Regions from separate parts of the Homo sapiens genome. Here region 1 is linked to region 2. Evidence: fine-mapped expression QTL. A gene starts in region 2. The other region holds a variant in brackets. All regions are shown on one strand. Distances are between the middles of the regions. Region 1 has its middle 66 kb from the start of LRRTM2. Region 2 holds the start of SIL1 (SIL1 nucleotide exchange factor).

Evidence for each region. PIP is the estimated chance that this variant, and not a neighbour inherited with it, causes the effect. A credible set is the group of variants that fine-mapping cannot tell apart.
Region 1: its variant is the best candidate, but not a certain one, in a credible set for the expression of SIL1 in whole blood (TOPMed, PIP 0.73).

What each region holds. Positions count from the first base shown.
Region 1 is chr5:138,939,592-138,943,982 of GRCh38, forward strand. No RefSeq gene overlaps it. Among named protein-coding and RNA genes, the nearest start is that of LRRTM2, 66 kb to the left of the region's middle. The variant A/G (reference allele first, on the strand shown) is at 2,567.
Region 2 is chr5:139,195,925-139,200,315 of GRCh38, forward strand. It overlaps SIL1 (SIL1 nucleotide exchange factor), which reads right to left and starts at 2,444. Exons shown (of 10, transcript NM_022464.5): 1 at 2,345-2,444. RefSeq lists a silencer at 2,120-2,649.

The DNA.
Region 1 (4,391 bases), 260 kb before region 2:
TTTTTGAGACAGTCTCATTCTGTTGCCATGTTAGCCAGGCTCCTCTGGAACTCCTGACCTCAGGTGACCCACCCACCTCAGCCTCCCAAAGTGTTGGGATTACAGGCATGAGCCACCACACCCGACCTCAACATATTTTTTAAAATGAGCCTTGACCTATTTACAGTACCTCACATCTTATACAAAATTTAACTCAAAATCAGAGACCTAAATGTAAAATTATAAAACTCTTAGAAGAAGACAGAAGAGAAATCTTTGTGACTTTAGAGTTAGGCAGAGTTCTTAGAGACAACATCAAAGTCACCATTCATAAAATTTAAAAATGGATAAATTAGACTTCATTAAAATAAAAACCTCTGTGAAATTGTTAAAAGAATAAAAACTTACAAACAGAACATATTTGTAAATCACATATCTGACAAAGGACTTGTATCCAGAAAATGAACAGAACCCTCAAAATTCATTAAGAAAACAGTCAACCAAACGAAAAATTAGGCAAAAAGATTCGATGCCTGTAGTCCCAGCTACTTGGGAGGCTGAGGCAGGAGGATTACTTGAGCCTGGGAGGCAGAGGTTGCAGTGAGCCAAGATTGCACCACTGCACTCTAGCCTGGGTGGCACAGCAAGACTCTAAAAAAAAAAAAAAAAACTGTCTAATGACTGCAGTACCATTTATTGAAAAGACAGTCTTTTCTCCACTGAACTGCCTTTGCATGTTTGTCAAAAATCAATTAACTATATCTGTGTGGGTCTGGCCAATGCCACACTGTGGTATTACAGGTTTATATCTTAAAATCAGCAAGTGTTAGCCCTCCAACTTGGTTCTTCTTTTTCAAAATTGTTTTAGCTATTCTTATTCTTGTTCTTTGCATTTCCATGTAAGTTTTCAAATAAGACTCCTGATACCTAAAGAATTCCTACGGGGACTGCATTGAATCTAGAGATCAATTTTGTGGGGACTGACATCATTTAACAATGTTGAGTCTTCCAACCCATGAATGAACTCAGTAGGTCTGTCCATGTGCTTAGATCTTCTGTGATTTACTTCATCAGTATTTCATAATTTTCAGCATAAAATCCTGCACATATTTCACTTTTCAGTTGATTTTTATACACTGACTTTGTATCCTATGACCTTGCTAAAGTCATTAGCTAGTTCTGTGAAATTGTTTTTACAGATGCCATGGGATTTTCTACATTGACACTCATGTCATCTGTGAATAGGGACAATTTTATTTCTTCTTTTTCAATCTGTATGCTATTTCATTTTCTTGCCTTAAGGCAGTGCCCAGAACTTTTAGTACAATGTTGAAAAGGAGTCAGGAGAGTGGGCATTCTTGCCTGTTTTACAATCTGAGGGGGAAGGAATTCAGCCTTTCACCCTTAAGTTTGATGTTAGATGTAGGTTTTTATGTGGTTTCTGTTCATGAGGTTAAGGAAATTCCCTTCTGTTCCAATTTGCTGAGAGTTTTTATTATGGCTGCTTAATATTTGTCTATATCTGTTGAGATGATGGTGTGGCCTTTTCTTCTTTAGTCTGTTAATATGGTGAACTAATTGAACTAGCCTTGCATTCCCAGGGTACACTCCATTTGGTTATATTATCCTTTTACATATTGTTGCATTCAATTTGCCAATATTTTGTTGAGGATTTTTGTAGAGACTTCAGAAAAATCTAAAGTCTTTGCCATAGCCTACAGGATCTCCTGTCGCCATTACCTCCCTAATCTTGTTGATGACGGGATATTAGCCTGTAGGATATTTTTCTTGAAATATCATTGTCAGGCCGGGCACGATGGCTCACGCCTATAATCCCAGCACTTTGGGAGGCCGAGGCAGGCAGATCACAAGGTCAGGAGTTCGAGACAGCCTGGCCAACATGGTGAAACCCCATCTCTACTAAAAATACAAAAAATTAGCCAGGCATGGTGGCAGGTGCCTGTAATCCCAGCTACTCGGGAGGCTGAGGCAGGAGAATCACTTGAACCTGGGAGGTGGAAGTTGCAGTGAGCCGAGACCGTGCCACTGCACTCCTGCCTGAGCAACAGAGTGAGACTCTGTCGAAAAGAAAGAAAAGAAAAGAAAAGAAAAGAAAAGATATATCATTGTCTAGTATTGGTGTCAGGGCAATGCTGGCCTCATGAAATGAGTTTGGAAATGTTTTCTTCTATTTTCTGGAGGAGACTGTATAAAATTGGTATTAGTTGGTAGAATTTGCTAGTGAAACCACATAGGTCTGGAGTTTTCTCTGTGGAAGGGTTTTAAACAGTAAATTCCATTTCTTTAGTACCTGTAGGGCTACACAGGTTATCTATTGTTGAGTGGGTTTCAGCAGCTTGTGTTAGGCAGAATAATGGCTTCCAGAGATGCCCACATCCTAATCCCTGGGCCTGCGCATGTTATGTTACATGGCAGAAAGCGAATCCAGGTTGCAGATGGAACTGAGGTTGCTAATTGGCTGATTTTCAGATAGGAAGATTATCCTGGATCATCCAGGTGGGCCCACTGTAATCACAGGGTCCTTAAAAATGGAAGATGGAGGCAGAAGAGGAGGTCAGAATGGTGC[A/G]ATATGAGAAGACCTTGACTTCCTTTTTTGGCTTTGAAGACAGAGGAAGGTCTAGGAGCCAAGGAATACAGACAGCCCCTAGCAGCTGGGAAAGGCAAGGGATGGACCCCACCCAGAAAGGAGTACAGCCCTGCGACACTTGGATTTTTGCCCCATGAGAACTGGGCCAGACTTCTAACCTACAGCACTGTAAGAAAATTGACTGGGAATGTTTTAAGGCATAAAGCTCATGGTAATTTGTTAGCATAGCAGCAATAGAAAGCTAATACAGTGAGAGGCCGTGTTTCTCAAGGAATTGGTCCATGATTTCTTCTAAGTTGTCAAATTGATTTTACAATGTATTTATTTAGAGTTGTTCATAATACTCACTACTCACTATCCTTTAATGCTCGTAGAGCCTATAGTGACACCCCGTTTTCATCCGTGAGGCTGCTGATTTATGTCTTCTCTCTTTTTCAAAGGACCATCTTTTAATTTCATTGATTTTCTTTAGTTTTACTGTCTTCAATTTTATTGGTTTCCACTCTTTATTATTTCCTTTTCTTCTGCTTCCTTTGGTTTTAATTTGCTCTTCTTTTACTAGTTTTTAAAAATTACCTTTGCTTTCTTGGTGTTACTTAATTGTACACTTGCATCATTTAGTTTTAATAATGGCTGTGTTTAACAACCAGCTGGCCACATTCTGAACCCTGCGGCTCCCTTGTGTGAGGTTCCCAGGCCTGGTCAGTATCCCCCACCCAGCCTCTCTCTCAGCTCCAGGCTGTCTGCTGCTGCCTGTCAGCACCCCCACCTGGATGTCCTGCTGACATCTCCATATAAACATCAACAGGGTCCACCTCAGAGCCCCAGTCACTCCCCTGTTCTCCAAGCTCCCACTCTGGTACCAGCTCCTCCCCACGCCCATCTGCTCCATCCCCTCGACTCCTCTCCCCACACCCTGCATCCCGCCAGCAGAGCCCTGAGCTCTGCCTCAGCCCCATCTGGAGTCTGCACACTTCTCACAGTCCTATGTCTTCACCCTGCCCCACATCCTTGTCCAGCTGCCCCCTGGATGCTGCCCTGGGCTCCCTGCCCCTCCTGGCCCCTGTGTCATCTATTCTCACCACAACAGTAAGAAAAGGTGAGGCCGGGCACAGGGGCTCACACCTGTAATCCCAGCACTTTGGGAGGTTGAGGCAGCAGGATCGCTTGAGCCCAGGAGCTCAAGACAAGCCTGGAAAACATAGGGAGACCTCTACAAAAAAATGAAAAAAATTAGCTGGGCGTGACAGCTTGCACCTGTGGTCCCAGCTACTTTGGAGGCTGAGGTGGGAGGACCACTTGAGCCTAGCAGGTCAAGGCTGCAGTGAGCCATGGTCACACCACTGCATTCTAGCCTGAGTGACAGAACAAGACCCTGTCTCAAAAAGAAAAAGGTGGGTTACATCAGGTCTCTCCTCTGCACCCAACTCTCAACAGCCCCACCTCAAAGAAAATCCCAGGTCCCTTCCACAGCCTCCCCAGGCGGCCCTCCCTTGCAACTCCTCCCTCGGTCTCTGCCTGCTCCAGGCCTGGTTCTCATGGCTTTTCCTGAAGTGCTTTGGCCTGTTCCTGCAGGACCTTTGCCTCTGCTATCCCCTTGTCTACAAAGCACCCCCATGGCTCACTGCTGCGCTCCTGTGCCTGGCCCCTCCTCAGAGGCCTTCCCCACCACTGAGGGGAAACAGCAGTGCCTACCCCTCTTCCCTTCCCACTGGGCTCTGTCTTCCTTGCCTGGCCCTCCCCTGAAGCATGTGTATTTATCATGGTCCAGCCCTCTCCCCTCCTGTCCTACCACTTCCTGCCC
Region 2 (4,391 bases):
CTGTAATCTCAACATTTTAGGAGGCCAAGACAGAAGAATCGCTTGAGGCCAGGAATTCAAAAACAGCCTGGGCAACACAGCGAGACCCTGTCTCTACAAAAATTAAAATTACAAAATTAGCTGGGCCTGGTGGTGCGCCCCTGTAGTCCCAACTACTCAGGAGGCTTTAGTGAGAGTATTACTTAAGCCCAGGAGTTCAAGGTTGCAGTGAGCTATGATTATGCCACTGCACTCCGGCCTGAACCACAGTGTGAGACCCCATCTGAAAAATAATAATAATAATAATACAGTATGGTTTAATATATTAAAGAAACTGATCTCTCGCATGGTTCAAAAAGGTCTCTGAAAACAATTCCAGAGGTGGATTTTCAAAACTGCCTTGGACAACAGCCAAATCACTTAGGCACGCCATCCTCAACTCCCACCACCTACACCTGCACACATCACTCTAAAGGAGAACATTCATTGGTGGATCAAGTTCCCACATGTCAGTTATTTTAAAATCCATTTTGTTACCTTTCAGTTTCACTTAATTAGCCTCTTCTCCTGCCAATGAAACACACCAGGGCTCACAGTTGGCCTCAGTAGAGAAGTAATAGCTGGCCTTCAGAAAACAGCAGGGAAGGGGAAGTAAGTGGGAATCAAAGTACTAGGCAACTTTTCATTCCTGGACTGCCGCATCCCTACTAACATTTCCATCACCTGTAAAATGGGAGCAGAACGTCTCTTCTATTGCCAATTTCATTAAAACAGCACATGTATTCATGAGCAGATTAAATTCACTAAACAAATGAAAGAAAGGGGAAATAAATGTGGTGTGGTAACACCATCTTAAAAACCCGAGAGCCATGTTCTCAAAACCACAGACCAAGTTCTGACCCATGTTATACAAATATCAATCCCAATATCGTTACACTCTGGCTCCCATCAAAATCCTACCCAATCCCCAAATCTGGCTATACTTTTATCAGAAAAGAAAAAAACTTGGGTGGGGTGAGAGCAGAAAAGACACACACACACAACAAAATATCTTTCACAATGTCAAAAAAAAACCTGTTTATATGCCAGGCGAGGTGGCTCATGCCTGTAATCCCAGCACTTTGGGAGGCCGAGGTAGACAGATCACCTGAGGTCAGGAGTTCGAGACCAGCCTGATCAACATGGAGAAACCCTGTCTCTATTAAAAATAGAAAATTAGCCGGGCACGATGGCGCATGCCTGTAATCCCTGCTAATCGGGAAGGTGAGGCAGGAGAATCGCTTGAACCTGGGAGGCGGAGGTTGCTGTGAGTCGAGATGGCACCATTGCACTCCAGCCTGAGAAACAAGAGCGAAACTCCGCCTCAAAAAAAAAAAAAAAAAAAAAAAACTGTTTATAAACACATCACTTTCTTCTCTTAGCAAATATGTAAGTTTCATTCTCCTCCTGTCTACTTAGTTTGGGTTAACTTAACCCCCGCCCCATCTCTCAGATCATGTTTTTATTTAGGTTTATTGAGGTGGGAAAGCCAACTGAACTTTAAACGAAGCCAGGCATTTAAGAATATTAGAAAACTGATCTTACATATATAGGTAGTCAAATATTTTTAAAAGACATCAAATGGCATTCTAATTCCTCCGGTGCAAAGAAAGCCCCAGCCTCACACGTGTTAGCATTTCCTGATTCCTGGCTTTTCCCACTCAGAGCCCCATTCCAGGGGCTCATATGTCAAGTCATTCTCTCCTGACTTCTGAAGCAGGGATTTTCAAAGCCAGGATTCCGGGACCACCTGAATGAGAACCCCCTGGGGTACAGCTGCCCACGCACCATCTTATCGGAAATCCCAGGGAATGGAGCCCAAGGCTTATGCACAAAGCCCCTAGACGATCCGAGAGATAACACTAACCAGTCTGTAACCTCTAAAGGCAAATTTTCCAGGACAAAGAAAAACAAGCAATAAGAGAGTGACAATAATTCCACATGGGAAGAGACACACGGGTCTCGGAGATCAACACCAAACCACCCCTTCTTCGGACAGATACGGAAACTTAGGCTGGGAGAATGAAACAGGCAAGGGCACTAAAAACAGGTGCGGAGCCAAAGCCAATCTCAAATTTCCACGGCCCCATCTCCTGCCAATAAAGAGGTGAATGGAGACATTCTGAGTGGGAAAGATAAGAAAGGTAGGCCTTCGGCAGGGAGCCCCGGGCCCACTTGGACGTCCCGCTTTGGAGACACTAGTGAGGATGTGTGGGTCCCCAGAACACTGCTGGGAAGGCGCCGAGGCCGCCGGCAGGAGGAGGCCCAGGAAGCGCCCTGAGCCCCCCGCCCAGCTCCAGGGCCGGGCGGCCCTCACCGCCCCTACCTTCGGCCTCCGGCAGCCGAGTGGCAGACACAACTCCCACAATTCCAGGCGGCCGCGGCGGCGACCAGCTCCCCCTGCGCAAACGCGGCGGCGACCGTCTGAGCCGGTGAGCTGGCAGCTGTCACGCCGCTCGCGGCCTCGCCCAATCGCGGGCCGCCAGACCAGCGCGCGGCGCCCCCCGCCCCGCACCGAGGTGGGAGCCCCGCCCCTAGCCCCGCCCTCTGCAGACTCTTGCACGAGCTGCCCCCGTGCCCCTCCCCTTGGGGGGAGGGAGGGCTGAAGAGATAGCTTCACGCCTGCTTTTGCTTCCAGGCTGGAACTGCGAAGTTTCCTGTCTGATTTTCCAACAATGTAATTTCTTTCTAGCGGAAGGACCCTCAGAAAGCAATCAGAGGGGTGCGGAGTAAAAATAAATCAAGTTCTTGTGACTCAGTTTGGGACAGAAGCCGAGAGTCTCCAGCAATAAAATTTCTCGCAAATTCATGCAAAATAGGACACCTTTAAGCCACTCACTTTATATACTTGTGTAGATTTTTTACAAGGACCAGTTATTTTAAAAATAGCATCAGGTGGCCGGGCGCGGTGGCTCACACCTGTAATCCCAGCACTTTGGGAGGCCCAGGCAGGCAGATCACTTGAGGCCAGGAGTTCAAGACCAGCCTGACCAACATGGTGAAACCCCCGTCTCTACTAAATATACAAAAATTAGCCAGGCGTGGTGGCGAGCGCCTGTAATCCCAGCTACTTGGGAGGCTGAGGCAGGAGAATCGCTTGAACCCACCAGGCAGAGGTTGCAGTGAGCTAAAATCGTGCCACTACACTCCAGCCTGGGTGACAGAGTGAAACTCTGTCTCAAAATCTAATAAAATAAAATAAAGGTCACTTGCGATTCTGATTTTTTTTTAAGACAGAATCTGTGTCCCCCAGGCTGGAGTGCAGTGGCAGGATCTTGGCTTATCACAGCCTTGACCTCCCAGGCTCAAGGGATCCTCCCCCTCAGCCTCCATCCAGTAGCTGGGACCACAGGCGCGTGCCACCGTTGCCAGGCTAATTTTTTTTTTTTTTTTTTTTTTACAGACAGGGTCTCGCTATGTTGCCCAGGCTGGTGTCAACGCAGTTGTAATTCTGCTGTACCAGTGAATATCATGCTTTCTGTACCAGGTGCTGCATATATATTTTATTTACTTATAACGTCCTCTGAGCAGAATGGTCATCCCCTTTTTATAAATGGAGAAGCTGACGCTCAAAGAGGCTAAAGGAGTTATACAAAGTCATACAGTCAGGAAGTGGTAGAACTGGGAGTTAAAGCTAGATTTAAGTGTCTCCAATGTCCTGTTCTCTTTCCACTATTCCACTTTTAGACCTTCCCCTTGCCTAGACATGCTTAACCTGATGAATAAAAATGACTGCCCCCTCCTGCCCTCAGATCCCCCACATAGTGATTCCTGGTCATTCATGAGTGGAGAAAACAGTAATCCAGACAGTTACCTCCCCAAATGGCAAGTATTTCCCAATAGCAAACAACCTATTTCTGGACTTCCCTTCCCTTTTCCATGTACTCTATGAGCTTCTAGCAGACAATTTACCTTCTTGATTATGTTTACTTCAAGCAGATGGGAAACTGACTTCATAGCCACTGAGCAAACCTTGGTTACTAGTATGGGAAGGGAGAACAAGCCCCTGGGCAGTAGTTCAGTGAATAGTGCCAGTTTATGAGAAAGGTCTAGATAAAACACCTAGGGCCTGATTTGGAAAGAGAACAGCTCACTTTTCCCCTGGAACACCCAGGAGACCAGTGAGAAGAACTGGGCCTAAGAATAATTCTAGCTTATGTCACTGCCTAGTACCATAAGTACAGATAATAAATATTCAACAAATATTTCATGAGTGATAAATTAGAGAATGAACATATAAATTATAATAAGACTGGCACGAGTTATAAAAAAGATGTTAATAAAGTGCTACAAGAGTAAGAGCCTTAAAAATAGAATAAGCTCAAATCTTATAATAGCATGAATAAATGAATGCTTGGGCCAAGAGAAGAGTC